2 linked regions of the Homo sapiens genome follow. The protein of the gene in region 1 interacts with the protein of each later gene in a biochemical or structural test. Each region holds a gene or a part of one and is shown on either strand. Other genes may lie near its edges. The genes, in order: EDAR and EDARADD.

Region 1 (16,389 bases):
ACAAAGAGAAGCTTCCATTTTCCGCTCTAGCTCCCAGCATCCTGCAGCCCAAACAACACCTGTCCAGGATCCGGGGCTAGCCAGCAGGGCTGTCTGCTGAGGTGTCTCTGGGGAGTTCAGCCATGTTTAGCATTTCACACATCTGTCTATACCTAGACCTCTGCTCGATATATACTATCCCCACACCCGAGATAGTTATGATACAAGGTTAGACTTCAAGCTAATTTGAAACAGCCCACATCATCCCAGCTCTCATTTCTGAACGAGCCCATGGAAACGACAGCAAGGCGAAGTCCATGAACTTACCAGGAGGGAGGTCTCAGGCAAGCCACCTCACCTCTCCAAGCCTTACTCTGCACATGTGTGAAGCAGTGATGATTGTCTCTATTTCACAGGACTGCTGTGCAGATTAAGACGGAAACGCTAAGGAAGCAACAAATGCCCAATAAATGTGGGTTTCTTCAACATTTATTGAATACCTACTGTGTGCAGCCACTGTGCTAGGTGCCAGAGAATGAACAGACGGATGCTTCCCGTCCTCAAAGAGGGCACAGTCAGTGCAACGGCAGGGACAGATGTTTAACGGCTCAGTAACAGCACCATGCAATTTGGCTATCTCTCCTATTTCCTCCTTTCAATGCTTTAGGCCATGAGAATAGGGGCCAGGTCTTTTATTTCTATTAGATCTCCCAAAGCCTTGAGAAAGATCTAGAGCCCGTTGTCTTACAGCAAATGCAGTGGCCTCTCTAACAAAGAAATGTTCCAGGGTAAACAGGAAAGCAGCCACCTCAAACCCCATCCAGCCCACACTGGGAGAGCTGTTTACAGAGATGAACCCAGGGAGGTGGGTGGAAGCCTCAGACCCTCCCTGGTGGGAGGCTGTCCTGCCACCAAAGGCCTCCATCTCCAGAGGCTCCTGCTTTAACTGATGCCGTGGGAGGCATGCAGCCAGTCCTTTAAGAACTAGGGACATTGGCGTTTGCCAGTGTCTCAGTTCTGTTTATTCTGTAAACATAAGGAGGAGCTCAACATTCTGTTGTACTTCATTTTGCAATCTTCACAAAATAAATATTTGCCTTCAAAAGCAACAACTGTGATAATCATCAGGATAATATTCTCCAGCGCCATTTCCCTCGCACATGCCAGGCACAGAAGGCAAGTCAGAGTGCTGTGTGTGGTCTGTTTGGATAATAATTTTCATCTGGAAACCTCAATTTGGAAACCAACTGGCAGTAATTCTAGAGAAAGTTTGGTCTCCTGGTTTTTAGAATTGACTCAAAACCGAGTGTCCCGAGTCACCTAAGTCTCCTTGCTTTGGTTACGTCTGCCCGTAAAATGAGAAGCAAAATTGCTTAGTGAGTGCTGGCGGGAAACTAGGACATTGGCGGGGTTCACAGTGGCCACAGAACAAGGACTGGCCACCCAGACAGGCCAGGTGCCTGCTGCATGTGCAGGGATGGTCTCTCTCTCTCCAAATCTCTCTAAGAATGAGCTAAAATTCAAAAAGAGTTCTGCTGAATGTAAATGGTACTTATTGGAGATTTTATTGCCCATAAAGAAATCCATCAACAGAAAACCACACTCTGCAAATCTACCGATGCACAATTAGTTTGTGCTGCTTACAAATCCCACTCTAAACTCAGCTGTCAGTGCCCTCCCTTGGCCACGCTTCTTGGAGATACAGGCTTTCTGCAGAGGATGCCGCATGTCAACAAACACATCCCCAAAGTGTACACTCTGATTTATCTTCTTCATTATGGACAGGAGGCTTTAGGAACAGCCATTTTGAGTCTTTATTAAGGACTAAATCTTAAAGAAAATGAACCTTGAGACTCCTCTAAAGTACCTTTTAGGGATGCTCAGTGCATTTCCATATTTTTAAGGATTAGGATTTTTTGGGGCCAGAGGTAATGTTTATTACCCAAGGACACAGAGCCTCAATCCAAACAGTAAACCATAAAACCACATCTAACTGGGTAAATAAAATCAGCCAACTTAATAGACATCTGCATCCCACTGGAGCATTCCCCGTGGCCTTCCACTTTCCTGTATTCATCAGACCCCAACCAGACATCAAGTCAACAATCCCGCCCTTCCAGCTCCTCCCTCGTGATCCATCTGTCTGCCTTGACTGCCCTGGAGTTCCCAGAGACAGGTATCCTCCTCCAGACTGACTTCCCTCCTAATCGACCTGCATCTTCCAGATACGAGGAAGGAAATCAAACTTTCCAGGTGCTGGTGGCTCCGTGCGGGACGGGGCAGGGAAGCCACCTTCTCTCCAACTCCAAAGGCCATATGGAGTCAACAGGAACAGGTCTGGCATGCTGGCCAAGGGCATCAGTGATCTCTGAACCCGTTCTCCAACAATTTTGCCAACTGAGCCATCAGAGAGCCACTGCGTCCCCACTCCATCTCACACCCGATGCTGGAAGGTGTCCCTCTCTCCAAGTGAGGAGGAAGCGAGTGCAGCTGGCCAGTGGCTCTGCGACTGTGGGAGTGTCCCAGCAGGGCTGCAAGGGGGGCGACGGCGATGTCTGTTGCTAAGTGTTCTTTCTCTGCACAACTTATTGAGTCTTGATAATCTACTTTCAGATTTTTGGAAGTGTAATCATGTGTTTCAGGTTAGGGTCTTCATAATTTTTCTCAGAATGGATCCCTTTGGCATGTGTTAACGGCCAAGGGAGCAGGTGTTGGTGAAAATGGATCATTCCTCTCCTGCCACCCTTCCTGCTGCCTGCCCTTCCTGCCCTGCACCTCAGCCAAGCCAACTCTCCCAGGAAGAGGCTACTTGGAGACCCAGCTCCTTAGAAGCAAATTACAGCAACCGGCGTGGCATGGGATGGGGTGGTGTGGGCACTGACTGTCCCAGAACAACACAGGGCGTGAGCCACCATGGCTGAACTTCCGCCCTGACTTGACTTCTGTTTGCCTTTCCATCACCCTCAATGAGAGCCCAGCCCCCTTGCCACGGCCCGCTCAGGCTCCTGGTTCTCCTCTCCTCTCCTTCTGTTCAACCCTCCTTTCCCTCTGCTCCGGCAGCATGGCCTTCCTGCTGGTGCTGGGACATCTCCAGCTCACCCCACCCCAGGGCCTCCTTTCTTGCGGGTGTCCTGGTTCACTCCCTCACTTCATCCAGGTCTTTACTCAACTATTTCATTTCCCAAGAGGCCCCCACTACTACCCTGGGCACCTTCTTTCTACCTGCCCTGCTAGTTTGTTTGTTTTTTTTTCATGGCGCTGGATTTATGCATTATAGCTTCTCTCCCTGCAGCAGAATCTAAGCTCTGTGAGTGCAGGGATGTTCTCTCTCCTCACCCATGGGACCACTGTGTTACTCACTACATCCCAGCATGGTGCCTGGCATGTAGCAGATGCCCAGAAAACATTTGCTGAATGAATGAATGTGCACTAAAACCAACTTGAAATCCTGCCTGCTTCCTCCTGTGCATGCAGGATTCTGTGCAAACATGGGATTGGAAATATGGCAAATGGAAGTTTTAAGAGAAGAGATTTGGTAACCATCTGAGAGTCGTCAAAACAGTGCATGCCCTCTCATTTTTTGCTTGCAGTCTGGTTTTGCATGTCTTTCTTCTATCCTAAGAAAGTGCTTTCTCTCAGGATTAAGGTGTTGTTGGCAGAATCAACTCTTTTTTATTTTCAGGAGACTAATACTGTATCTTATTTCAGTATTTGGGCTCACCTTTTAGTTGCCTATATCTAGCTATTGAATGGTATCAGTTAACAACATCAGCCTTAAGCCCACCACTAAGCTTGGCTTCTGTGCTACACTGCGGGCCTCAGGGCTGTTACTAAGAGTAACGTGACTGTGGTTGTTATTGCCCTCATTGCTGATTTCGTCCGACTCACAAGTGAAGGCGCGCCTTCCTACTGTGTTTGGAGCAGTAGGTCTGATTGACCGTGAAGTGAGTTAAGCTGGCATGAGCTCGCAGGGTGGTGCAGGCAGGGCTACCGCCACAGGTGCATCTTCCTCTGTAGGGCTCCTTACGGCCCACCTGTTTTCCATAGTCCTCTGTTTTCTCGGAAATGGAAAACAAAGGCATCCTGGCTGGTTACATGTGTACGTAGGTGTATAAAATGATGGGCATTTCCAGAGTGTGTCTGGGCAAGAGGATCTGGGCAAGGAAGCAGGACCTCCAGCTTCACCCACATGTGTCTGCTCCTTCCTGGGGTCCAAACAGTGTGTTTGCCACCCTTGGGCATCCAGCATTTGAGAAATAACAGGTGTCTCTGCCCCCAGAGAGGGTAGCTTTGCTAACTAGGATTTGTTTGCTTATTGACTTAGGGGATGCTGATGTTTGAGCAGCCCCCTTGTCCCTAACTGTGTCATTGGAACAATTGGTGACCTTTCTCTGACAAGAAGGATGAAGGAGCCCATTCATTCATTCATTCATTGGACATATTTTCATGGAGTGCATGATGTCCTTGGGGTGTGCTATGACTGAAGACACTTCAGGTTGTAGGATCCCTTAATACATGACCTAATGAATGGCTGATCCCTGCCAAGACCCAGGGCAAAGCTTTTTTCATAGCTTTGACTGTACAGGGTCAGCTATCCTTGGGTAATGCTTTGTGACACTCTAAGGGCAATGATGAAAAATTAAATATGGTCAAGCTCATTTGTCTCAGGGGCCAGTGGGCTGTTGGGATGCCTGAGCCCCAAATGCCATTTTGAGTTTTTTTTTAGTTACTAGACTATCTTAGACTGAACCACCTACAATGGCCTATATTTGACAGTTTTTTTCACTATATAAAAACTACAAACACTCTAACTTTTATCAGGAGGGTTCACAAAGAACAAAACTGAGACTGTTTCCTCTTGATCCCTCGCCTCTGAGGACAGGAGATGAGTGTGTCTGGGGCTGACACGACCCTGGGAAACTAAGATACAGGAGGGGGAGTGTTTGCTTACTCCACTCTTATTTTTATAATCCCTGGTGGCTGTCATTGCACCATCTCCTTGTGGGGGCAAATGTGTCAGTGTTGGAGGCAGAGGACACAGGTTCTAGTCTCAGCCCCTCCAATTATGAGTGACAGGCTCCACACGAGGCCTGGGCATACTGAGTGCTAACCTAGACCAGTTCTTGGTGTTCCCATAATCATTATGAGCTGTGGGACTTCGGGCAAGACAGTGAACCTCTCTGAGCCTCAATTTCCTTATTGGGAAAATAGAGAAGACATTCATGACAACGCTTTGTAAAGTGCCATAGAAATGTACAGCAGAGGTTAAATGATTAGACATCAGCTTATGTTTCCTTGCTTTATTTTTTAGGAAAATAGTAATCTTTGGGACTTAAAAAAAATTCCTTCCTGCAATATACGAATTCAGTAAGGACAGAATCGTAGGCATTGAGATGGAGGCGGCATACTCACAGGAAAGGCTGGCTGGGGCTTTTGTCCCCTAATTGATCTAATGTGCTAAGTGGGCTTAATGTAAGTTAATTAATGATACTATTGGTGGGTGGAATACCTAGGCAGAGCCTCAAACAGCATCAAAGGAACGAGCAGGCAGGTGTCATCCAGGATAATTGAGGCATGCAGGCAGTCACTAGGCAGGCTAGGAGGAGGGTGAGGGGAAACTGAGCCCAGCTGAGGGGCTGAGCCACTTAAGCAGCAAGGCTGTCTGCCAAACACCATCCTGTTTACAGCTCCTGTATTTGAATTTCAGATTTGCTTGAGTCTTTGAAGCTGGGTTCCTGGGCATTTCCTTGAGAATAAATTCTATTCTTTGGAAACCACAAAACGCACTCACTTGGACCCAGAAAGGAGCGTCAGGTAACCCAGCTTCCATCTGTGGGCCTATGAGACCTGAGGAACTTTGACTAGAAGAGGCTCCCCATTTAACAGAGGCAAGTAGGTTTTGCGCTCCGTGAGATGGGGTAAGACCAGGTCTGTCTGCACTCCGGAGCAATGTTGGGCTGCCGCCCAATGGCAGGCACTGGGCTAGGCAAGAGGGTACCATGATGCCTGAGAAACAAAGATGAGCCCCTGACATGTCTGTGCTTCACAAATGTGTATGCCCAACAAAATGAAAGTCCAGCTCACAAAAGCAAGAAACCAGGTAGTGGCCAGGGAGTGAAAATCAAGCATTTCAGGGAAAGTGTATTTACTTTTTCCTCCCAAAGACTGGTCCTTCCAAGATTATCCTCCAACTGTGCTGTCACAAATTAATCCTCCCACAGCACAGCCTGGCCCACTTAGGGATGGGGAGGGGTACAGTGGAGACCCCCGGCCAATCGCCACCAGGATCGCCAAACTTTCCCAGCCGTGAAGGGTACACGTGGACTGTCATCGGAACGAACGCTTATTTCCAAGCCTTGACCAGAGTCACTCTCTTTTTGGTGGCCTCTGTCAAAATGTATCTTTAAAGGTTTTAAGTGGCTATGACTTACAAATCTCAGAGTATTAAGCCAGGCAAGAAACATTCTCTATTTTAGATGCCTGGATCCCTTTTTTCCTTCAGTCTATTATGGCTCTTCACTTCTTTGTTACACTTTCACTCTTGCTTAGAAAGTGTCTCAAAAATGCCACTTGAGAGCCACAGAGCAGTGGCCTGGGGACTGGGGAAGAGGACGGTGGTGCTCCTGTCTCTCCGTACGTCTCCTCACATGCGTGTACCCCTGGCTGTGTGGGATTGCCCACTGACCGGCATCTGCCCTGCTTGTTGATTTTAACTGTCCCTCTTGTTGCTGACCCAGCACAACATGGGCAGGGAAACCCAGTGGGAACCTCGCCTGCTGACCTCCCTGCCCAGCCACCCGCTTCTCCCTGAGCTGACATCTCAAAGCTTGGCTGCTGCAGGAGGCTGGGAATCAGAGCCGACTGAATCAGAGCCGACTCCTGTCTAGGAGCCCAACCCACCCCACGGTCTGTCAGAGTGTTGAGAGGAACCTCTTGGCTGGAAATGAAAACCTCAATCATCACAAATAGGTACCCACTCCCCTCCTTCTCTCCCTCTCCCCGCTCCCCCGCCACCAACACAGAGGCCAGGATATGGGGGGTCTCAGACACGACTGGAAACCCCACTTGGAAGGTCTCTTAGGTCACAGCGGGTACGCAGAGTTGGAGGCAGGTACAGAGCCCAGCTAGAGTCCCTGCCGCGCCTGCCTTCCCCAGTGAGCCGGGCACAGGGGCAAACCTGAGAAACATACTTTTCACGCTCCCTGGAGGAACCCGTTGCTTCAGTAGCCCAAATCTTAAAGCCTGTGAAGCACACACAGAATTTGTCTCCCTAACCAAATGTGCAACCAACAGCAAAACAGGGTTTCTGATGTTTTTCTAAAACAAAGGAACAATCTCAGGTCTTAGAACTGGTAGCGCAGACATACTGCAATCGGTAAAGCTTGTTCAAACGCAACCCAAAAATGACATGCATTTCAAAAATGCACCCAGCCTCTCTCCCAGCCCATGACACCTCCGTCTCGGCCACAGCTGAAGAGTTTAGAAAACCAGAGGAAAGGACCAGGGCTTACCTGGCTTCTGTTGGAGGTCAGCTTCAGTCCCAGCAGAAGATGGGTCTATGAAGAAAGTCAGGTACCATCCAGTTCTGGGTGACAGGCTTCACAGGTGGCCACCGTGGCAGCCCTCTCAGAAGCAGGTACTCTATGTCCTTAGGGGCCAGCAGGGCTGCCTGGGACCTGGCACACCTCTCTGACACTAGCCCCGCTTCCTTTCCGTTTAAAGGGCTTCCCGGGAACTCTTCCTTGACCGCTCCCTGCCCTGTCTGCAAGTTTGGAAACTCAGTCCTTGCCGAGGGGCTTTCCCTCATTGCAAACTCACCTGCACCATCTAGAGGTCTCTCCCAGCACTGGAGAGGCTGGAGCGGGCACGTTCAGCCCTGCTGCCATAGGTCCCTGGCACACCTGGCTCTCCGGCCGTCTGCCCCTTAAGAGATCTGTTGGAATGCGTAAAAATCATGGATTTTTTTTTTTGCAGGGGTGGGGGCCTTGCTTCTATCAGAGCCTTTAGGCGTGGGAGTGCTAAAAAGCTAAACTAGCATTAAAATATCATTAATCAAAGCTTGTTCGTAGAAGGACCCCCCACTGAGATGGCTACAGGCATGGGTGCCACTGCACGGATTCAGCTTCCAACATGTCTGTTCACATTCTCACCCATCCCCCGCACATCCCTCAGGGTTTGAGCCACCAGGACTGCTCTTCCTTTCCTCTCTCTGGACACCTCACACCACCAGTGTATACCCATGTAACTTCAGATAACCATACACACCCCCCGTATAACTAGGTAATTAGGAAGCCATTTGAAACATCAACATTTTGAAAGGACATACCTTTCAGTATTGGGCAATTATTTCTCAAAAAGTAAATGATTGGGGGGGGGAAAACAGCCTTAAAATAATGTCATTCTCTTGTCATTTTCTCCCTCATTCACACCTACACAGATAAATACAGGAACAGAGCAGCTCCTCCAGGCTAGATTTCTGTGTTCTCCTTTTCCATCTTGTCCCCTCTGCCTTGGAAACCTACAAGGTAACTCACACATGAGAAAGTAAGAGCTTAAGAAAGAAACAGTCTGGGCTCCGTGGCTCACACCTGTAACCCCAGCACTTTGGAGGCTGAGGCGGGCAGATCACTTGAGGTCAGGAGTTTGGGATCAGCCTGGCCAACATGGTGAAACTCCGTCCCTACTAAAAATACAAAAATTAGGCCGGGCGCGGTGGCTCACGCCTGTAATCCCAGCACTTTGGGAGGCCGAGGCGGGTGGATCATGAGGTCAGGAGATCGAGACCATCCTGGCTAACAAGGTGAAACCCCGTCTCTACTAAAAATACAAAAAATTAGCCGGGCGTGGTGGCGGGCGCCTGTAGTCCCAGCTACTCGGGAGGCTGAGGCAGGAGAATGGCGTGAACCCGGGAAGCGGAGCTTGCAGTGAGCCGAGATTGCGCCACTGCAGTCCGCAGTCCGGCCTGGGTGACAGAGCGAGACTCCGTCTCAAAAAAAAAAAAAAAAAAAAATATACAAAAATTAGCCGGTGGTGGCATGTGTGGAGGCTAAAGCAGGAGAATTGTTCGAACCCAGGAGATGGAAGTTGCAGTGAGCCGAGATTGTGCCACTGCACTCCAGCCTGGGCAACAGAGCGAGAATCTGTCTCAAAACAGAAAAGAAAAGAAAAGAAAAAAGCAGACAGAAATGTATGGGGCTGGGGCAAGGACCTAGACTGTAAAGGACTAATTCTGCCTCCACAGAGATTAAGCTGAACCAGAGTTACTTAGCTGACTTGATCCTTGTGGATGATTAATCTAGATAATATAAGCTCCCAAACAAGAATTTTAACTTGAATTTTCAGGTTTGGTTGTCTACCCTGCTCATGCCGAGTTCAGACTGAGGGTCTGTGATAAATTAAAGTCACTGAAATTATTAAATTAGGAACCTGGGAAAATGAATGGGAGGTATTCTGGGCTAATCTGTTCTACTCCATATAATTTTTACTTTCTGGTGTGCTCACAGTGTGTTTGAGGTTTGGGATTATTTTAGGTGTAACTAAAACATTTTTTCTATTGGAAATTAAGTGGTGATTTAAAATTTACCAAAAGGAATGATACTGATATTTCCCAAAGAGAGAGAAAAAAGACACAAGAAAAAATTAAAATGGCACAAAATATGGATGCTGTAATAGAAGCCAAGGGAGTTTTTTCCTCTCTTTGAAAAAAATCCAAACATCATGGCATTAAGCAAGGTTATGGATGGTTATACTTGAAGTCTGCCTAGTCATCATATCCAAATGAAAATGAGTATATAATTAATTCAGTTGATTAAGAGAAAGAATGAAATGAGAAATCATTGCTTATCTTCATCATGTAAAGCTCCAGAGCTTTGAAGATATGTGATTTTCTGTTTTATACATTTCCTAAGAGACTGAGGCAGAAATAGCAACAGGTTATCAATAGCATTTTTTAAGTAAGAAAATGAATCAAGACTGCAGAACATGGTTGGGTGAAGGGGGTCTCCTGGGGCTGTGTTCTAAATTTAGAACAAATTTAGAAATGATGAATGTAATTTAGAACAAATGAATTGTAATTTAGAACACATGCTTGCTACACATAACAGCCCGGCCAGCCACCTGCCCCCTTCATGAGGTGTGCTCAAATGCATGGCCAGGAGTCTTATGGAGGGGCACAACAGGCAGGCTGGCCCCAGCTCTCAGCTCCGCAGCAACAAAACTTCGCAAGTGATTTTAGAGAGTCAATGGACTCCCATCCCTGTAAAAAACACTCAGGGGTTGGTAAGAATTATCTTGCAGATCAGATAATTTCCAGTGAGTGAAACAGAGCCATATTCTGGTCATCGTGATTTTAAATTTGTGTCTTTTATTTTTTTGGTGAGACAGAGTCTTGCTCTCTCGCCCAGACTGGAGTGCAGTAGCGTGATCTTGGCCCACTGGAACCTCTGCCTCCCAGGTTTAAGCGATTCTCAGCCTCCCGAGGAGCTGGGATTACAGACATGTGCCACTGCTCCCATCTAATTTTTGTATTTTTAGTAGAGACAGAGTTTCACCATGTTGGCCAGGCTGGTCTCGAACTCCTGACTTCAAGTGATCCTCCTGCCTCAGCCTCCCAAAGTGCTGGGACTACAGGTGTGAGCCACCGGACTCACCTTAAATCTGTGTCTTAATTACAAATCTCATGTTGTGTGAGCAGAAAGAAAATCCTTGATACCCATGTACCCCATCAAAGTAGCATTCTCCTATGCCATCATGTTCATGTGTTTATTCATGCAGCAAATGCACGTCACGTCTTCTACGTGCCGGTACTGTTCCAGTTGCTGGGTAGATCACAATGAGAACAACAGTCAAAATCGCTGGCCTCAAGAAGCTTATGCTCTGTTTGGGGAGGCATAGAGTAATCAAGTTATGAAATGGAGATGAAAAGTACTTCTTGGCCGTGATAAGCAAGGGTGCACAGGATGCCTGGATTATTTGTGTTTGTATGTGAGGGGATTATCAGTTGGCTGGTGACAGTTTCCTGCTACTAATTACTGTCTCAAAAAGTGGCAGGGGAATCAAACACTCCAAAAGCAAGATGCTCCTGTCTGGCAGCTGGGCCCTGACATATAATTGGTTTCACCTAACAACTCACCACAGCAAGTAAACTTCTGGTTACCTGCAGGTGAAGTCTATCTCAGAAAACCTTCCAGGAAATGACATTGCTCAAATCCTAACACAGTGTGTGTATATTTGATGAAATGTTTTTATGCTCATGGTGACACCCACTAAGTTATTCAGAATAAAATGATCACAGTTCTGTCTATAGTGTAGAGTTTGCAGCTTCAAATTTGTCCCACAACTGGGACTGTTTTCTGGAAGAACGTTGCCCCTGCCTCGTGGCACAGTGGCTCCCAGGACTGACCTGGCCTGGCTTCTTTGCTTTCCTAAAATGCGTTTGTCCCCAGCTCTGTCAGTGGTAACCTCACAGGGCTCTGCCCTCCTCAGCACTGGCCAGCTAGTTTTTAAAGTATCATCTCAGAGCACCCGCTACTCATGTGGTCACAGTTCCATAGGCAGAAAAAACAGGAATATAAATATTTGTGATTTAAAGTCTCTCTTAGGAACCACACCTTCCTAGGCTTGCAAATGTGCCTAAAATATGAGAATGGAATTGGGTGATACGGCGGACACCAGCAAGCTGATGTGGGGGTAAGGGGGTGTGAGGGGCGGTGCTTTGGTTGTTGAGAAGGAAAGTTGACCAAGACTTGCGAAGGAAGAAGGCAGTCCTGCAGAGTTGGGCAGAAGGTGTTTCAGATGGACCAAAGGTCTTGTACAAAGGTCCTGTGGGGCCCAGAGCCAGGTGTGCTGAGGAAACTGACAGGAAACTGTGGCCACAAAGCAGGGAGCTGGCCTGGGAGGCAGCTGAGCCCAGCCCAGGAAGGGTGGTAGAGACCACATTCCACGTGGGGGCTGGACAAAAGGGTATGGATTCTATTCCAAGTATATCATGATTTGAAAATGATGGAAACTTGTTTTAGAAGTAAAATGGGCCACTATCCTTAGCAAAATGAGGAAAGGGAGAGACTAAGTCTGGGGGAGTATTTGCACAGAGGGAGGGCCTTTAGGGTGTCACCTAGATACCGGGAGATGAAATGCTATGTGAACCATTGTCAAGCTTGGGTGATCTGTCCTCCCCCAGCATAAATTCAGATGGGACAGCTCCAGGTCAAAGGCAGAGGAAAGAGCTGGGCTTTGCGTTGATTGTACCCTATTGGAGAATGAGATTCTGCATTTAGTTATTTAACTAAACTTTGAACACTGACCCCCTGCTACTGATTAAACAAAAGCCTGGCTTTCCTTTGGCTACCTGCCTTAGCTTGGGCTGCTATAACAAAAATATTGTAGGCTGGGAGGCCTCAACAACAGACATTTGTTTCTCCCAGTTCTGGAGGCTGGGAAGTCCGAGATCAAGGTGCCCAGCAGACCCAGTGTCTGGTCATCTCCCATGGCAGATGGGGTGAGGCCGCTGTCTGGGGTGTCATTTACAAGGGCACTAATCCCATTCATGAGGCTCCATCTCTAGCCTCCATGACCTAATCACCTCCCAAAGACCCCACCTCCAAATACCATCACCTAGGAGCTTAGGATTTCAATATATGAATTTCAGGGGAGACACAGACACCCAGACCACAGCACTTCCCATTTGCCCAGGATTCCCCCCATGGACACCTTATTAAAAATGCAAGCTGGATTTGGAACACAGCTGTCAATAATGACTCTGGTCACATAAAGGAAGGACCATAATGAACCACCTCCATGGATGAAGGAAAGCTTCAGGCCAGGAGCTTCGTGCAGGGCAAAGGCATGCCCTCTCCCGTGGCCTAAGCTCTCTCTGCTCCCCAGCCAGGGTTTGAGACGGCCCCCACCACCTCCATTATGTAAGCAGTGAAAACATAATTGAAATTGATCCTCGCTGAGAATGGCTTTACGAGCTTGAATAGTGCAAAGGTTCAAATACTAAATCTTTTTTACGATCTGTAATATTGTCATTTAGCTCAACAGTACACATCACTATGTTTTTCTAATAAAGGAAACCACAAGAGTATTATAAAACCTATTTGCACTATACCAGAAAAATTAAGAGGGGAGAAAACTGAGTTTAGAAATATGAAATATTGATATCTTCATTTGAAAATCAACAAATTCATCCTTCCAATAGGCAAGTACATATTTCTATCATAAATCATGGCTCCGGGGAAAGGGGATTATGGGGTCATGGGATTATCATGCTATTAACCAGTGGATATCTAAAAGCAGGGAAGTATGGGTCCATAGTATAAACATAAAAAATTATCTGTGCATTGGGTTATATATATATATATATATATATATATATATATATCTTTTTTTTTTTTTTTTTGAGACAGAGTCTCGCTCTGTCGCCCAGGCCGGAGTGCAGTGGTGCAATCTCGGCTCACTGCAAGCTCCACCTCCCGGGTTCACGCCATTCTCCTGCCTCAGCCTCCCGAGTAGCAGGGACTACAGGCGCCCGCCACCACGCCTGGCTAATTTTTTTGTATTTTTAGTAGAGATGAGGTTTCACCATGTTAGCCAGGATGGTCTCGATCTCCTGACCTCGTGATCCACCCGCCTCGGTCTCCCAAAGTGCTGGGATTACAGGCATGAGCCACCGTGCCCGGCCGCATTGGGTTTTATTTATTAGTATTTATTAATCAATGGATTTTTTTCTAGAGACAGGGTCTTGCTCCATCACCTGTGCTGGAGTGAAGTAGTGAGACTGCGGCTCACTGCAGCCTCAAACTCCTATGCTCAAGTGATCCTCCCACCTTGGCTTCCCAAGTTGCTGGGAATACAGGTGTGCCTGGCCAAATTAATGAAATTAAAAATCACACCTATTACAACATTTTGCAGGTAATCTGTAAGGCAGAGGAACGATTGATTTACAAGGGCTAATGTGTTCTTGCAGGGGGCATGTTAGTTCTCCCTTACTCTTCACCTGCTATGGATATGAACCCATTGTCCAAAGATCCCCAAAGCTGTGGTCAGCAAAAGAAAGCCAAAATGGGAATAAACAGGCATTTTAACAGGAATTCACCCTGGCTGGCAGAGCTGCTGCCTGCCACCTCTTCCCAGCCTCCCTTCTCCAGCAGGAATCTCCCAGCTCTGCTCAGAGCAATATGCCTGGCTAAATGGTTGCATTTCTTAGCTTCCCTTGCAGTTAGATGTTGCCGCGTGCTTCAGAACTGTCCAATGAGCCACAGCAGGTGTCAGAGACTTCCAAAAAGGCTGCCAACTCATCTGGGAGGAAGCTGTTCTGCCCCTTTCCATGCGTCCCCTTTGCTGCCACCTGGAGTGTGAACATGACAGCTGGGTAGACATCAGAGTAGGACGGAAGGAGCTCCAACCCCTTGTGCAGCTGCCCCACCAGGCCCAAATTACCTGCCTCATTCATGGGAAAGAATAAACCCTCATGTCTTTCAGCCACTGTAGCCAGGCCTTATTAATAAAGACTAATTAATTTGCAGTTTCTCATTATGAAAAATTGGGATATGCAATTTATTCTTTTCTAGATAAGCAAGGTTTAAGAAAGTCTGCTTTATGGCAATTTTAGCTTTCATATCAGTTCTGCTGGGGTATCATTCATAGTATAAAATGATTCCCCAAGGAAATGAAGTGTTGACTAACTGGAAAGATTCTGATTTGGGAAGAGGGAGTGAAGAGTGAGAGTTCCCTGCTGCCTAACAGTGGGGATAGGTGCCAGGCTTCTGGTGTTGACCAGGTTTGAACCCCAGGAAGGTCTGAGTCTGGGTCTTGGTTCCACCCTAAGCCACACAGTTTAGGGATCTTTACACCCCAGGTGCAGGGATGTACGTTTAAGTCCAGCACAGTTTCTCACAATCCCAAACTGGGCTGGACACTAGAGAGCTCTCCTCTACTCATGCCTTCAAGGTGGCTGGTAATGTCCAACCACACTCCTTGGGAGCAGCTCAAAGTAAATAAGAAAGGCTCCAGATAGGTGAGTGGCCACCAGGACACTGGCCTCATTAAGCAGGCCCATTAACGGTATGCGCCATGGACTTCAACAATGAAATACATACCCCAGACGGGATCTAGGGGATTCACTGACTGGGAGAGAGTATGTGGAAACTTCTACTTCCATTCCCCCCTGCCCATGAGCATGGAGCCCAAGCCTGCTGTGCTGTTGTCCTGTGCCTTTGAATCAGTGATCTTACCAGCAACATCCATCTGCACAGGCCAACAGTGTGGCAGTAACACAGGAACCCTGAAGTCTCGGTGGCATAATACAATCATAGCTCGTTTCTTGCTCATGTCACATCTGATGCGGGCTAGGTGGCTTTTCCAGATGGTTCTCCTGCCAGCAGTGACTCAGAAACCCAAACTCCTTCCAGCCTGTGGCCCCACCATCTGCCTCTTCTCAGGTCAGACAGGAGCAAAGGCTTGGATGAGCACATGGGATGCTCAGGACCAGGCCCAGCAGTGGCACACCACTTCAGTTGGCTAGCATCTACTCACATGCCTCCAGGCTGACTGCTGTAAGGGTGGGGAGTGCAGTGTTTTTGTGTGTCCAGGAGCAGAAAATGGGATTCAAGTGTGTAACTAGTCTCTGTTGCCAGAAACTTTCCTAAACTCCTCATTCTGTTTAAACAAAACCTCTAGCCAGTGGGTCTGAAGCATAAGATGTCCTAGTATGGCTGGGCGCAGTGGCTCACGCCTGTAATCCCAGCACTTTGGGAGGCTGAGGTGGGCAAATCACGAGGTCAGGAGATCGAGACCAACCTGGCTAACACGGTGAAACCCCGTCTCTACTAAAAATACAAAAAATTAGCCAGATGTGGCGGCGTGCGCCTGTAGTCCCAGCTACTCAGGAGGCTGAGGCAGGAGAATGGTGTGAACCCAGGAGGCAGAGCCTGCAGTGAGCTGACATTGCGCCACTGCACTCCAGCCTTGGAGACAGAGCAAGACTCTGTCTCAAAAAAAAAAAAAAAAAAAAAAAGATGATGGTCAGTAAGGGTTTAGAAATGTCCAGAGAACACCTGCATTTCCAACCTTTGGCATACCTAACAGATAGAAAGAGGCAGGATGGCTGGCTGGATATCTGGCCCTGGAGCCTGAAGACCTGGTGTTAAGACACTGCTCTGTGGCCGAGCACGGTGGATCACGCCTGTAATCCCAGTACTGTGAGAGGCCGAGGTGGGTGGATAACGAGGTCAGGAGTTCAAGACCAGCCTGGCCAAGATGGTGAAGTCCCGTCTCTACTAAAAATACAAAAAATTAGCCGGGCATGGTGGCAGGCTCCTGTAATCCCAGCTACTTGGGAGGCTGAGGCAGGAGAATCACTTGAACTCGGAGGGCGGAGGTTGCAGTGAGCCGAGATCGCGCCACTGCACT
Region 2 (16,523 bases), on another chromosome or scaffold:
AGAGTGAGACTCCATCTAAAAAAAAAAAGGAAAGAAAGACATTTTTTTTTTTAATAGAGATGGGGTCTCACTTTATTGCCCAGGCTGGTCTTGAACTCCTGGTCTCAAGCAATTCTCCTGCCTCGGCCTCCCAAAGTGCTGGGATTACAGGCCTGAGTCACCATGCCTGGCTGAGGTTTTTACTTTTAAAATGCAAATTCATCTCTCTATGCCTTTGACGACTCTTATTTATCAAAATTATGTGTGCATATATCTTGACTTCCTTGCCAGCTTACAGATTCCTTGAGGAAAATCTAGTGCTGTGTGTTTTCTACCAAACATATGTTATCAATAAATATTTGCTAAGAAAATGAATCCCCTCTACCTTCTATAGGAAAACATCCCACGTATTATCCCCCTTCTCTCTATTATTTTTAATCCTCCACTCCTGCTGATCCTTTTTCTTTCTAAAATCCTGAAGTTTCTCATCCTGAAAAGTAGAAAGGAAGCCTTTTCTGTACTTTCCAATATCTTCAAATAACATTTTAATATTTTTCTTTGCTACCTTAATGAATTTCTGGATAGAACTGCATAAACATTCTCATACTCACTTCTTAACTCTTGCAAGTAAATCCAATGACATCTTGGTAGGTCTCCCTCTTGACCACGCTGTGCCTCCTGAGGGTGGTGACCATTCCTTCCTCGACATGTGAAGCGATGCCCTCCCCTGGCTTTTCCCTTTCTTTATTCAATACACAGTTATTGGGACCTACTATGTAGTAGGCATTGAAGATACAATTATGAGCAAAAAGACACAGGAGTCCCTGCCCTCAAGGGGCATAGCCTAATCAATGGGTGAAGACAATGAAATAGTCAGCAAACATGTGACTATGAACTAGGATCAGTGCTATGAAGGAAAGAATCGTTGCCTTGAGCACAGATGGTTTTCTTCTCTGGCTATTCCTCTAGTTACCTCTGAGCTCCTTTCTTCCTCTGACCTCCAAGAGTAAGTGTTCCTCAAGGTTTCATCTTGGTTAACCTCTCCGCTTTCCTATAAGGACGATTTTCCTTGACAGTCTCATCCATGCCTAGGGCTTCAACTATAACCTCCCAATGCATGAATCCTAAGCACAGTACCTAGTGCTGTGTCATCTACACAAGCAGTCTCACTGGCACAACAAATCTCACATACCCCAAACTCCACACACCTTTATCTCCTCTTTCTGAACCAACCAACAAAGAAAACTCAATCCTAACAACACACACACATCTGATGGTCTTCTTCCTGAATTCTCTATTGATCTTGTCAATAGCATCCATCTCCCAGGCACAGGCTTTTAAGCCTGTCTCATCTTCTTTCAAGTCCCCTTAGGATCCCAGATAAGGTCATGAGAAAATCACTGAAAATCCCCAATACCTTCCACCACCCACCCCTCTCCGGCATTCAAGGCTCTGGGGCCCTGGTCTCAACTTACCTTCCAGCCTCATCACCTAAGCTCTCTCAGGCCAAGTTCACTCTGTCACAGAATCTCCCCTCAGATCCTCTGTCTATACCAGGGGTGTCCAATATTTGGGCTTCCCTGGGCCACATTGGAAGAAGAAGAATTGTCTTGGGCCACACGTAAAATATACTAATGCTGATGATAGCTGAAGAGCTTTAAAAAAATCACAAAAAGGCCAGGCACAGTGGCTCACGCCTATAATCCTAACACTTTGGGAGGCTGAGGCGGGTGGATCGCTTGAGGTCAGGAGTTCAAGATCAGCCTGGCCAACATGGCAAAACCCCGTCTCTACTAAAAATCCAAAAAGTTTAGCTGGGTGTGGTGGCGTGCACCTATAATCCCAGCTACCAGGGAGGCCGAGCCAGGAAAATTGCTTGAACCCAGGTGGCAGAGGTTGCAGTGAGCTGAGATCACACCACCGCACTCCAGCCTGGGAGACAGAGCAAGATTCCATCTCAAAAAAAAAAAGCAAAAAAATTCATAATGTTTTAAGAACATTTACAGATTTGTGTTGGGCTGTGTTCTAAGCTGTCCTGGGCCACATAAGGCCTGCAGGCCATGGGTTGGACAAGCTTGGGCTATATCATTCCATCTACTGGGAGGGTTCTGGCTCCGGCCCTCAGACTCGCATCCTAGAATCTATTTCTGTGTCAGATGGGCATACCGTGCTGCCATTGACCATGACATCATCATGACCATGGAGCAACAGGATGGCAAAATCATGGAGCAAACTGGATAAAATGTTTCTGAATTATTAAACAACAAAAGCAGGATATAGAACAATATCAAATTATTTGCAGGGTTTTTTTTTTTGTTTTTTTTGTTTGTTTGTTTTTGATTTTTGAGATGGAGTCTCACTCTGTCGCCTAGGCTGGAGTGCAGTGGTGCGATATCGGCTTACCACAACCTCTGCCTCCTGGGTTCAAGCAATTATCCTGCCTCAGCCTCCAGAGTAGCTGGGATAACAGGCACCCACCACCACGCCTGGCTAATTTTTATATTTATTTTATTTTATTTTTTAACCACTCTGGATCTTGATGTGTAAAGTGAGCATAATAATGGTACGTCCTGCATAAGGTCATTTTGAAAACTATATGAGTTAGGCTGGATGCGGTGACTCACGCCTGTAATCCCAACACTTTGGGAGACTGAGGTGGGTGGATCACCTGAGGTCAGGAGTTCGAGACCAGCCTGGCCAACATGGTGAAACCCCGTCTCTACTAAAAGTACAAAAATTATCTGGGTGTGGTGGTGGGTGCCTGTGATCCCAGCTGCTCTGGGGCTGAGGCGGGAGAATCGCTTGTATTTTTAGTAGAGACAGGGTTTCTGTTTCCCCATGTTGGCCAGGCTGATCTCAAACTCCTAACCTCAGGTGGTCCACCTGCCTCGGCCCCCCCCAAAGTGCTGGGATTACAGGCATGAGCCACCGCGCCCAGGGTTATTTGCTGTTTTTATAATTATGCATACAAAAATGTACAAAGGAATACAACGAAGTGACAAAAATAATTGTATTCGAGTGGTGGAATGGGCGATGCGCCTTTCATTGATCTAGAATCTAAATTTTATTTAGTATGCTTTTTAAAGTAACGCTTTTATTTTAGAATCATTTTAGATTTACAGAAAATTTGAGAAGACAGTGTAAAGAATTCCTATATATATATCCTATCCCCAGTTTCTGTTATTATGAACATCTTACATTAGTGGGATACATTTGTCGCAAGTAAATGAGCCAATAACTTAATGGTATTGTAGTTTCTTTCTTTCTTTCTTTCTTTTTTTTTTTTTGAGAGTCTTGCTCTGTCATCCATGCTGGAGTGCAGCAGCACAGTCACAGCTCACTGCAGCCACAGCCTCCCAGGCTCAAGCTGAGCATGATCTCGGCTCACTGGAACCTTCCTCTCCTGAGTTCAAGCAATTCTCCTGCCTTAGCCTCCCAGATAGCTGGGATTACAGGCACCCACCACCATGCCCAGCTAATTTTTGTATTTTTAGTAGGGACGGGGTTTCACTGTGTTGGCCAGGCTGGTCTAGAATTCCTGATCTCAGGTGATCTGCCCACTTCGGCCTCCCAAAGTGCTGGGATTACAGGCATGAGCCACCGAGTTGGTCTGCAGTTTCTTAATGTAGTTTCTAAAACTAAAAAAACTTGTTTTGTAATCCAAATAAACAACATAGAAGACAATGTCATTATTTTCATAACTTCTAACTCCAACTTAGTATCCTAATATTTATTATTTTTCTTATTTTTATTGTATTACCTTAGACTCCTCTTGGCATGGATTCTTGGCTACAAACTGGAACCCAATTTTTTTTTTTTTCTTTTGGTGGCAGGGTCTGGCTCTATCTCCCAGGCTGAAGTGCAGTGGCACGATTTCCATTCCCTGCAACCTCTGCTTCCCAGGTTTAAGCGATCCTCTCACCTCAGCCTCCTGAGCAGCTGGGACCATGGGACCACAGGTGTGGTTAATTTTTGTATTTTTTGTAGAGTTCAGGTTTTGCTGACCTTGGCCTCCCAAAGTGCTGGGATTACAGGTGTGAGCCTCCGTACCCAGCTGGAACAAATTTTTGCTTTATCTTCATTTGCCATATGCTTATGCATGTCGTTAAAGTAATTAAAACTTTATTGATTGATAAAGGTCCTAGGAAATGTTTTCCTTAAAGTATCATGGAAATTGTTTACACATCTGAGCCTTACACACATCCGAGAATCAAACTGTGTGCACTGCCTCTCCAACAAGTCTATAAGGTCTGCCTGGGGTCTTTTTTTTTTTTTTTTTTTTTTTTTGAGACGGAGTCTCGCTCTGTCGCCCAGGTCGGACTGCGGACTGCAGTGGCGCAATCTCGGCTCACTGCAAGCTCCGCTTCCCGGGTTCACGCCATTCTCCTGCCTCAGCCTCCCGAGTAGCTGGGACTACAGGCGCCCGCCACCGCGCCCGGCTAATTTTTTGTATTTTTAGTAGAGACGGGGTTTCACCTTGTTAGCCAGGATGGTCTCGATCTCCTGACCTCATGATCCACCCGCCTCGGCCTCCCAAAGTGCTGGGATTACAGGCGTGAGCCACCGCGCCCGGCCCTGCCTGGGGTCTTAACTTCCACCTCCTCCTCCTGTATTTTTTATGTCCAAGAATACCCAGTTCAGATTGGTCTTAGAGTATATCCTCAATAAATACCAGTTGTAATAAGTTGTAGAAGTTGAATAGTTCTAGTAGATGGGGTATTGATTTTAAATAACTAAAAGTAAAGGGTTCTTTCTGAAATTGCACTTGAAATGTCAGACCTTAATGTTTTGTTTTGTTTAAGAGACAGGTCTTGCTATGTTGCCAGACTAGCCTCAAACTCCAGTTCTCAAGCGATCCTCCCACCTCAGCCTCCTGAGTAGCTGGGACCACAAGCATGCCTGGCTTAGACTTTAATTTTTGACACTAGGACACTATGATGTTTTTCCTCGGCATCACTCGAAAAAGGAAGCTCAAATAAATCCTTAGTAGAAGCAGATTTTAGTCTTAAATTATAAAAATCACTAAAAAGGCAGATAATAATTATTCTAAAGAACATACTTCCAGCTTGCTTTTATTTTATTTATTTATTTATTTATTTTAAGACAGGGTCTCACTCTGTCACCTAGGCTGGAGTGCAGTGGCACAATCTCAGCTCACTGCAACCTCCACCTGCTGGTTCAAGCAATTCTCCTGCCTCAGCCTCCCAAGTAGTTGGGATTACAGGCGCCTGCCACTGCACCCTGCTAATTATTGTAGTTTTAGTAGAGACGGGGTTTCACCATCTTGGCCAGGCTGGTCTTAAACTCCTGACCTCGTGATCCACCTGCCTCAGCCCCACAAAGTGTTGGGATTATAGGCGTGAGCCACCGAGCTCGGCCTCCAGCTTGCTTTTAATGTCTGAACTATAGAATGGAGTGTGTGTTGTTTTCTTCTTTTAAACGTTTCTCCCTGGTGAATTTTCTTTGTTCTAACTGCCAAGTTCATTTCAAAGAATCCTTCTGAGTATCTAGCAGTTAAAACAAATCCTATAGATTATACAAAGAAATAGTCAACGGAAGCAGCCAGCTGCCTATAGTACTACTTTTTATAGGAGAAGAAGACATTTTGTTTTAAAATAGAACTTTAAAAATCTCAAAGAGGTATTTCCCCTATTTTTTTAGTTGATAAATATATTTTCACCTTTTAGGATAGTATTTACTTGATATAGCCAAAATTATAACACTGAAATTAGGAAAAATGCTGAACAGTGTGCTAACATATATTCTGTACCTCATCTTAAGTGGTTTTGGAAAATCCCTAAAAGTAAACTACATGAAAAACTTAGCATTCTTTTATCTTCAAGGAAGTCTACATGTTACCAAAAAAATGTGAGGAGCAAAATTTTGTTTAAAAATTAGGATTATGAGAAGAACAAATTTATACTTTCAGTTTACTAAACTAGTTTAAATTCAGTAAGCACAGAAGCCCATTATTAGATTATAATTTCAAGGAAAATGTTGAGTATCAGGAGTAAAGAGTGAAGTCTGATATTCACAATTAATGGTTGAAAATTCCCCAAAACAAAGTTAAAACTAGCACCACTGACCATTTTCAAGACAGTTATGTGTTTTAATTTAAACTGCTTATTTTATCAACTATTGTGTAACTTCTCTTTCTTACAGAGGTGATTTGACTACCCAGCAATGTTACTATTAAAGACTTTATTACAGAGTGATGTTTTAAAGCAAGACTAGGCAAAACTTGTTACAAATTAACTTGATGTTATATATAGAAGGAGCAGAATTGAATCAGCCTATTTGAGGCAAAACATGCCTTTGAGATACTGAATGCTGTAAATATAGTTAAGCAACTCTGCTAATGAGCTTTGGGAGAGAGAACAGAGGTGGCTTGGACAGTACAAGAAGTAACTGACCAAGGAAGTCCCCAGAAAGATGTATATCAAAAGGTGGAACAGTGGAATGACAGGCAATTCTTAACTTTCTGTGTGTACTTTTTTGCACAACTTGAACTTTAAAATAATGAACATTCTGGCCAGGTGCAGTGGCTCAAGCCTGTAATACCAGCACTTTGGGAGGCCTAGGTGGACAGATCACTTGAGGCCAAGAGTTCGAGACTAGCCTGGCCAACATGGCAAAACCCCGTCTCTACTAAAAATTCAAAAAAAAAAAATTAGCGGGTCATGGTGGCGGGCGCCTGTAGTCCCAGCTACTCGGGAGACTGAGGCAGGAGAATGGCGTGAACCTGGGAGGTGGAGCTTGCAGTGAGCCGAGATCGCACCACTGCACTCCAGCCTGGGTGACAGAGCGAGACTCTGTCTAAAAAAATAAATAAATAAATAAAGTAGCCGGGCATGGTGGCGCGCACCTGTGATCTCAGCTACTCAGGAGGCTGAGGCATGAGAATCTCTTGAACCCAGGAGGCAGAGGTTACAGTGAGCCGAGATCGCACCACTGCACTCCAGAGTGAGACTGCCTCAAAAAAAAAAAAAAAAAAATCTCTCCCTCTCCCGCTCCCGCTCCCTCTCCCTCTGCACAGTCTCCCTCTGATGCCGAGCCGAGGCTGGACTGTACTGCCGCCTCTCCCCTTTGCACGGTCTCCCTCTGATGCCCAGCCGAGGCTGGACTGTACCGATGCCATCTCGACTCACTGCAACCTCCCTGCCTGATTCTCCTGCCTCAGCCTGCCGAGTGCCTGGGATTGCAGGCGCGCGTCGCAACGCCTGACTGGTTTTCGTATTTTTTTGGTGGAGACGGGGTTTCGCCCTGTTGGCCGGGCGTGTCTCCAGCTCCTGACCGCGAGTGATCTGCCAGCCTCGGCCTCCCGAGGCGCCGGGATTGCAGACAGAGTCTCGCTCACTCAGTGCTCAATGTTGCCCAGGCTGGAGTGCAGTGGCGTGATCTCCGCTCGCTACAACCTCCACCTCCCAGCCGCCTGCCTTGGCCTCCCAAAGTGCCGAGATTGCAGCCTCTGCCCGGCCGCCACCCCGTCTGGGAAGTGAGGAGCGTCTCTGCCCGGCAGCCCAGTCTGGGAAGTGAGGAGCGCCTCTTCCCGGCCGCCATCCCGTCTAGGAAGTGAGGAGCGTCTCCGCCCGGCCGCCCATGTCTGGGATGTGGGGAGCGCCTCTGCCCGGCAGCCCAGTCTGGGAAGTGAGGAGTGTCTCTGACTGGCCGCCCCATCTGAGAAGTGAGGAGCCCCTCTGCCCGGCCGCCACCCCGTCTGGGCGGTGTACCCAACAGCTCATTGAGAACAGGCCATGATGACGATGGCGGTTTTGTCGAATAGAAAGGGGTGAAGTGTGGGGAAAAGAAAGAGAGATCGGATTGTTACTGCGTCTGTGTGGAAAGAAGTAGACATAGGAGACTCCATTTTGTTCTGTACTAAGAAAAATTCTTCTGCCTTGGGATGCTGTTAATCTATAACTTTGCCCCCAACCCTGTGCTCTCTGAAACATGTGCTGTGTCCACTCAGGGTTAATTGGATTAAGGGCGGTGCAAGATGTGCTTTGTTAAACAGATGCTTGAAGGCAGCATGCTCCTTAAGAGTCATCACCACTCCCTAATCTCAAGTACCCAGGGACACAAACACTGCAGAAGGCGGCAGGGCCCTCTGCCTAGGAAAACCAGAGACCTTTGTTCACTTGTTTATCTGCTGACCTTCCCTCCACTATTGTCCTATGACCCTGCCAAATCCCCCTCTCTGTGAAACACCCAAGAATGATCAATAAATACTAAAAAAATAAAATAAAATAAAATAAATAAATTAAAAAAATTACAATTAAAAAATATGAATTCTTTTATAATCATAAAACAATAAACATATTTCCTTTTTGGAAAAAGATAATAGAAATAATATGTTAAAGTTTGACTTCTGATATCTAAAAAAATTAAAGTTTAATAAAGCATTACAAGTATTATATTAGAGTATCTAGTTTTGTTGTGCCTTAAAGAATTTGCTCATCCACAGAGTGCCAACTGCATTAGAAAGAAAACAACTCTCCTTTCTAACTCACCAGCATTGATTTTCTGTTGTTGGCATGTAGAAGAGTATTTCAAAGAATGAATGAAAGCTATAATATTTATTAGAAGTAAAAAAGTTCTAAAGATATGCTACCTTACTGGGATGCTTAGAGACCATTTGCAAACCCTGTTTATGATCTAGAAATCCTGTTTTTCATTTTTTATTTGTAAAACTCTATAAATCTCAAAAAATTTTAGGTGGATTATCATGTACCTAAGGGTAAAATATAGTTGAAATTATTCTTACCTGATTTTTCATATCTGAATTTCGTGGGCAGTTCAAAGTAATTGTATCACATTCTTCAGCTAGGAAAAAAAAAAAGAAAGAAAGAAAGAAACAAAGTGTGATTTTAAAAAGCACACACTCCGTGGTGTAAGACCTAAAATTAAGGTTCAGTGTCACATGCTGCCTTGGCATCTGGTAAAATCAGAAGGGCTGGACTACAAATTCCTCTCCAAACTCTGCTCTTAAGGATAAGATCCCCCAGCTAAACAATGCTGCTTATCAAGAGATTAGGCACAATTCCTGCTTATTTTTTATTTATTTTTTTAAAATAAGAGACAGGGGCAGGCGGATCACCTGAGGTTGGGAGCTTGGGACCAGCCTGACCAACATGGAGAAACCCCCGTCTCTACTAAAAATACAAAATTAGCCAAGAGTGGTAGCGCATGCCTGTAATCCTAGCTACTCTGGAGGCTGAGGCAGGAGAATCACTTGAACTCAGGAGACAAAGTTTGCAGTGAGCTGAGACCACGCCATTGCACTCCAGCCTGGAGAACAAGAGCAAAACTCCGTCTCAAAAAAATAAAAATAAGAGACAGAGGGTCTCACTCTGTCATCCAGGCTGGAGTGCATCTCACAGTAACTTGGAACTCCTAGGCTCATGTGATCCTCCCACCTCAGCCTCCCAAGTATCTGGGAAGATAGGCATGTGCCACCACACCAAGCTAAGTAAGATATAGGGCCTCACTGTGTTGTCCATGCTGGTTTTGAACTCCTGGCCTCAAGTGATTCTCCTGCCTTGGCCTCCCAAAGTGTTGGGATTACTAGTGTGAGCCACTGTGACTGCCCCCTGCTTATTTTTTGGGTAGTGGGTTTCAGTTTCCTACCAACATGTGGAATTATTCAAACAGGCTGATCACGAACTCACATGGGAACCAGAAGGCAGCCTACCCTTTTGATGCCACAATGTTTGTCTCACACAGCCCATGGTTTTTTGCTCTGCTCTCAAGTACAACATCTGTGTCCCCCTGCGTGGCTCTGTGTGATGGGCAGTGTCCTCCTCCCCTGGGCTGTGCATATATGTGACTCATAAACTGCTGCTGATCTTGTCTCTCCAGTGTTGGATGTGTGTGTTTGTCCATCCCCATAATCCTAGAGCAGGGGTGAGGAGAAGGTGATCAAAACAACTGGCATGATAGCCAGGAGTGGTGGCTCACGCCTGTAATGACAGCTATTCAGGAGGCTGAGGCAGGAGGAGCACTTGAGGCAGGAGTTTAAGAGCAGCCTGGGCAACCCAGTGAGACCCAGTCTCAAAAAACTTAAAAATTAGCCAGGCATGCTGGTGTGTGCCTGTAGTCCCAGCTACTTGGGAGGCTGAGAGAGGAGGATCACTTGAGCCCAGGAGTTCAAGGCTGCAGTGAGCTCTGATCGATCATGCCACTGCACTCCAGCCTGGGGGACAGAGTGAGACCCTGTCTCCAAAAATAAAAAAATAAAAAAAAAAGATAAGAAAAATAAAAGAAAAGAAACAACTGGCATAATGAACAGGATGACCCAACCACAATCAAGGACATTTGGTCAGATTTCATTAACTGCTCTCGGCTAACCAACTTCACTAATACCACGCAGGCTGCCTGGGATAGAATTGACAATTACTGGAAGATTTGCACTCTGGCCTATGCAATGCTGTGTTGTCTTTGTTGATTGTTTGGTATCTCATCCCAAGATGAAAACTGTTGTGAACTGACTGGACCCCAGAGCTGTCAGTTTGGGCCTGTGTTTGGCAGGTGGTCTCTTGAGGCTCCCATCTGTAAAGACGGTGGTAGCACATCCCCCTAACCGGTTGCTGCTTAAGTCCCACTTATCAAGGGACAGGTGCAAGCTCTCTTAGCAATACAACTAGCTTGGTGACCATCACTGGCCACTTGGGGCAGCTGTACAGGCACTGTTTGTGAAGTGCATCCCCAGGTCAGCCACGGGGGCGGTCCTTTGCAGACAGAGGTTTGCAGAAAGGAAGGAGAGAGACCAGGGAGTTCCCCAGGGGAGTTTCCCTGGTGCCCTGGTTGCTGCTAAGGCAAAGGCAGTGACCCTGCCCATCCCCTCAGCTGCTGCTTCCCTTGCTGCTGCCCATGTGTTCTCCTGACCCCCAGGGGCATCGAGGTACACAGCCATGGCAGTCTGTGGCCCAGGTGCTAATGAAGAAAGAAAACGGGAAAAAGCATTTGGTACTCAACTGCTCTCTCGGCACAGAGCCCCTGGCGAGCGCACCCAGCTGTGCTTAGCGCTGCTGCTTCCAACACGCCAAAGAGCTCATCTTGCCATAGTGGGTTTAATGTCCCCACTTGGGCCACAGACAAAACCACCTGGCTGGATGAGGACCCCATCCCCAGGGAGACCGACTGGTATTCCCTGGAGGAAGAGGTGGCTGCCTGCGACGGGGGCCACCTGGCTCCCAACACTTTGCTCGTAACCTCCCAGAAGGTCCCTTGGGACATATGGAGACAAAAACTGAAAGCCACAACTTTATGTGGCTAGAAATCCAAAATATTCTGAGGGCATTTGTACAAGACAGGAAAAAATCCATAAACAAATTAGTTAATTAATTAAGGAAAACCCTCATGGCAGAAAAGACAAAGTTGTAGCAGAGTCCCTCCACCTCTGGGTTATAGGCCAGCACTCTTCCATTGGGCTGGACCACGCTGCAGCTTATGCCCCTGTTGCAGCAAAGATCCTGATCCTCAGAGTTGTAGGGAAAACTCCTAGTAGCCCCGGGGCACAGTAAAAGGGTTAATTCACCCTGACACAAGCCCACAGTTTTTAAACTATATGAGAGCAACCACTGCCACAGGGAAGGCCCCACCCCTGATGATACTGATTTGAGGTTCTCTGGGGGAAGAAATTTATCAATATGAGCAGAGTAGAGAAGACTGCCCCTGCCAAAAGTATATCCAGTGACCATAAAAAGGGAATGAAAGAAAGATAAAAAGAAACCTGGACACAAAGGAGAAGACAGGTTGGGTGTGGTGGCTCACACCTGTAATCCCAGCACTTTGGGAGGCCAAGATGGGAGGGTTGCTTGAGGGCCCAGAGTTCAAAATCAGCCCAGGCAACACAGTAAGACCCTATCTCTACAAAAAGTTTAAAAATTAGCTGGGCATGGTGTCACATGCCTATCGTCCCAGCTATTTGGGAGGCTGAGGTGGGAGGATCACTTGGCTCCCAGAGGTCAAGGCTGCAGTGACCCATGATCACACCACCGCACCCCAGCCCTGAGTGACAGAGCAACGTCCTGTTCCAAAAAAAAAAAAAAAAAAAAAAAAGATGCTTCACAGTGGATTACTACAATTTTATTTTATTTATTTATTTTTTGAGACGGAGTCTTGTTCTGTCACCCAGGCTGGAGTGCAGTGGTGCGATCTCAGCTCACTGCAACCTCCATTTCCCAGGTTTGAGTGATTCTCCTACCCTAGACTCCCAAGAAGCTAGGATTACAGGTGCCGACCACCACGCCCGGCTAATTTTTGTATTTTTAGTAGAGACAGGGTTTCACCATGTTGTCCCAGCTGGTTTTGAGCTCCTGACCTCAAGTGATCTGCCCACCTCGGCCTCGCAAAGTGCTGGGATTACAGGTGTGAGCCACCGCATCTAGCCAGATTACTACACTTTTACTGCTGTGGTCTCATCCCTTAAGGCTTCCATACCCCATGCCTAAAATGATTGGAAAACACTGACTCCATCCAATTAGTGACTAGAAAATATTTTGCTATTACAGATTTGCCTAATATGTTCTGTTCAGTGACTATCTCAATAGTCTCTCAATCAAAGTTTGCCTTCATCTGCAAACGGACATGATATATCTTTACAAGGCACCCATGGGGCATTTCAAGAGCCTGGTCATCACACACAGGCTTTGCAGGCAAGATCTAACTGCATCCTACTTTCTCAGTCTCATGAGTGTGATGACATTACATGGATGAGATCCTCCTCTGAGGACATTCTCACTTGACATTTTCATGCAGGCCACGGAATACAGTACTCACAACAATGCTCACGGAAAGAGATGGGCCACTGCCCCACACATAGCGCAAGGCCCTGCCACCTTGGTGAAATTCCTAAAAATTACTTGGTAAACTAAGGGCTGCTCCCACCCAGACACTGTCAATAAATAGCTATTGACCCTCTCTGCACCCACAATGTGAATACAAGTCTAGTATATTTTTAGCTCTTTTTTGGGTTCTGGTGGCAACATATTTCTCATTTACAAATTTAATCTCATTGATGCCAGTACTTGCAAGTCAGCTCAATGTAAATTTGGGCCCCTCCAATAAAAGTCTACAACAGGCAGTCCCACTAGGACCCCCAGAGATTTCTGGAGCTTCAGCAACCTCCTCTCATTCCTCCTGAAGTCTCTGGACCACCCACGATAGCTGAAAGTTGTCCACAGGCTTTTGATGCAAGAAACTGCCCTCCCAGGCCCTGTTCTACACATTATTAGAGCAGCAACTGCTAGCTGCATACTGGGCTCTCTTGGAAATAGAGGCTGTCATTAAACACTAGCTGTGACCCTCCATACTGCGCTGTCCATTATGCCTTGGGTCATGGAAGCAAAATCCTGGAAGCTCCGCATGGTTACCAAGGCCTCCTTGATACAGGATGGAGCTAAACCCGGGCACTCTGGCATGTTCCATCTGCAGGAAGGGGTGGCTTCCCCCATCCCTCACCAGAGCCCATAGTGCTGGAAAAAGTCACCCCTCTTGCAGACTCCTAGGTTATCTGGGGAGCCCCTTCAAAGCAACTGAGTGAAGAGCAATGGGAATTTGTAGACTTTACAGATGACATCACCCCCATCATACACGATGAAGCTCAGCAGACAGTTGCTGCTTTCCATCCCTTAACCAGGATATCCCTGATAAAGGAAGGACCCAAGATTAGCAAAACTGGCCAAACTTCAGGCAGTCATCTTATTGCTGGATGTCCTGGCCAACAAATCGCCCCATCTGCACAGTTTTTATAAATTTTTGGACCATTGCCTAAGAGTTGCACCCTTTGTGGTAAAGAACTCTCAGAATCTCTTGCCTCAAATACACCCAAACTATAAATAAAGAAACAGATGTCTCTATGTACAGCAAGGCCACCATACAAGGCTTCAGCAGAACATTTCCAGTCTCCTTTGGAGTCCCACTTATTACTGACAGTGAGCAAGACACTCATTTCTCTTCTAAGAACATACAACGCCAGGCTCTTAAGCCATTCAATGAAACTTCCACCTCCCCTCTCATATCAGGCAGCAGGTTCGATTGAGAGGCATAATGAAATCTTCAAGAAACTCCTATGTAAGTTACTGGGTGTCACTATTGTCACAGGCCTTAATGAATCTAAATCCACAACCTCTGGAGACATGTACTCCCTACACCAATGCCACACGGGTTCCTCAACTGCCTTTACTGGCCATCAGGGGGACACCTCTAAAGTTCCTGTTTTTGATGACCATCTCACCATGTGGCCCTCTCCCTCCTGGTCAAGTGCCTTCCTTGCTTCTTAGTGGGGCACTTCTATTCCCTAGAAGTCTCAGCCATCATTAAGGTTTAAATTTATGCCATGGCATCTAGGGGTGAACTGTTGTATAAGACCTAACATTGAGACTCAATTTATGTGCTGCCTTGACATTGGTAGAACTGGGAAGGGCTCACACCTGTAATCCCAGCACTTTGGGAGGCCAATGCGGGTAGATCACCTGAGGTCAGGAGTTAGAGACCAGTTAGAGGTTAGGTTAACATGGTGAAACCCCATCTTTACTAAAAATACAAAACTTAGCCAGGCGTGGTGGCGGGCATCTGTAATCCCAGCTACACAGGAGGCTGCGGCAGGAGAATGGCTTGAACTTGGGAGGCAGAGGTTGCAGTGAGCCGAGATTGAGCCACTGCACCCCAGCCTGGGCGACAGAGTGAGACTCTGTCTCAAAAAAAAAAAAAAAAAAAAAAAAAAGAACTGGGAAGGTCTTGAATGGCCTAACCACAAGTCTCCTTCCCACTCTGCTCCCATGGCCAAAGTCCCCTAGCCAAACAACGCCCCTTACCAAGGGGACCACGCACAGTCCTTGTTCTCTTTTTGTAATGGGCTTCATTTCCCCTGATTCCATGGACTTAACTCAAACAAGCCAATCACATCCTGACAACCAGGAGGCACCCCACTTGCTTAATACCATAAAGCCTGTCTGACAGCCCCTTGTTGTTTGCTCTGCTCCTAAGTGCAACCTCCATGTGGCCCTGCATGACGCACAGTGTCCTCCCCTCCTGGACTGAGTATACATGACTCATAAATTCCTGTCGATCTCATCTGTTAAGTGTTGAGTGTCATGTGTTTGGCCATCCCTGTAACCCTAAGATGGAATCCCTCCCTCACCAACAGGGTGAAGAGGAGACAATCAAAACACATTCTCCTGGCAGGGCACAGTGGCTCACACCTGTAATCCCAGCACTTTGGGAGGCCGAGACAGGTGGATCACCTGAGGTCAGGACTTCGAGACCAGCCTGGCCAACATGGTGAAACCACATCTCTACTAGAAATACAAAAATTAACTTGGTGTGGTGGCGGGTGCCTGTAATCTCAGCTACTCAGGAGGCTGAGGCAGGAGAATTGCTTGAACTCAGGAGTGCAGTGAGCCGAGACCGTGCCACTGCACTCCAGCCTAGGTGACAGAGCGAGACTCCATCTCAAAAAAAAAATTCTCCCCTGATTAACAACGTGATATCAAATTCCAGTGTGTTCATTCGTCTGTCATTTTACTAAGCCTTTCAGACAGTAGAGAGTGGGATTATACTTGTCCCAACAGCTCACCCTCCTAAAGGTCAAACCTAAACCATTTTGGTTCTCTTGTTCAAGTTCAGGTTGCCAGTGAAAAGCAAAGGAACTTGAAATTCATGTTAAACATTTAACATCTTTCCATATGAATTGCTAGGAAGCAACTTCCATTCCAAAGTTGTGTTAACTTCACAGTTTTCCCACCTGTGGTGAAGATGGTACAAAATAGCTTAAAAACTGATTTTGTTCCATCAGATTCTAATCTTTAGTCACAGAATTCAAGGCCATACTCTAAACTTTAAGGTTGGCAGAAATATATTATAACAGAAATTTTAGCACCATGTAAATGTTTAAAGTTATTTAGCCTTAAATACAGAACCATTTAACTCAGGGTTGAAAAGTCAGGATGAAGTGAGGGATTGATTGATTAAGCCATTTGATTTTTACCTTCATTAGCAGTCTTTTTATTTTATGTATTTATTTATTTTGAAACAAAGTCTCACTTTGTTGTCCAGGGTGGAGTGCAGTGGCATGATCTCAGCTCTCTGCAATCTCTGCCTCCCAGGTTCAAGCGATTCTCGTGCCTCAGCCACTCCAGTATCTGGGATTACAGGTGCGTGCCACCACCACACCTGACTAATTCTATTTTTGTATTTTTAGTAGAGACGGGGTATCGCCATGTTGACCAGGCTGGTCTGGAACTCCTGGCCTCGAGTAATCCACCCGCCTTGGCCTCCCAAAATGCTGGGATTACAGGCGCGAGTCACCGTCCATGCATTAGCATTCATTCACCTATTATGCGCTGAGCTGCTAGATTGGTTCAAATAAGGGACCATGTATATTCATTGTCTCACACACAATTCTGACTGGAATAAAAGACTTTCTTTTCATAATAGTATTATCTGGGAAACTGAAGCTAAAAGTGTGGTCTTTGCCTGAGGCTGTGTATGTTATCTTTTTACAGCTAGAGCGGTCACCATCTGACCCAGGCTTGCCTCGCTCT

Evidence for each region.
Region 2: the proteins of EDAR (region 1) and EDARADD form a complex in vitro, tested with the Homo sapiens proteins (one study listed by BioGRID).

Annotation. Positions count from the first base shown.
Region 1 is NC_000002.12:108,981,470-108,997,858, forward strand, and holds the start of EDAR (tumor necrosis factor receptor superfamily member EDAR precursor), read right to left. Parts: upstream 7,752-16,389; 5' UTR 7,491-7,751; intron 1-7,490. UniProt on the Homo sapiens protein: Receptor for EDA isoform A1, but not for EDA isoform A2. Mediates the activation of NF-kappa-B and JNK. May promote caspase-independent cell death.
Region 2 is NC_000001.11:236,419,671-236,436,193, reverse strand, and holds part of EDARADD (ectodysplasin-A receptor-associated adapter protein), read right to left. Parts: intron 8,803-16,523; coding exon 8,744-8,802; intron 1-8,743. UniProt on the Homo sapiens protein: Adapter protein that interacts with EDAR DEATH domain and couples the receptor to EDA signaling pathway during morphogenesis of ectodermal organs. Mediates the activation of NF-kappa-B.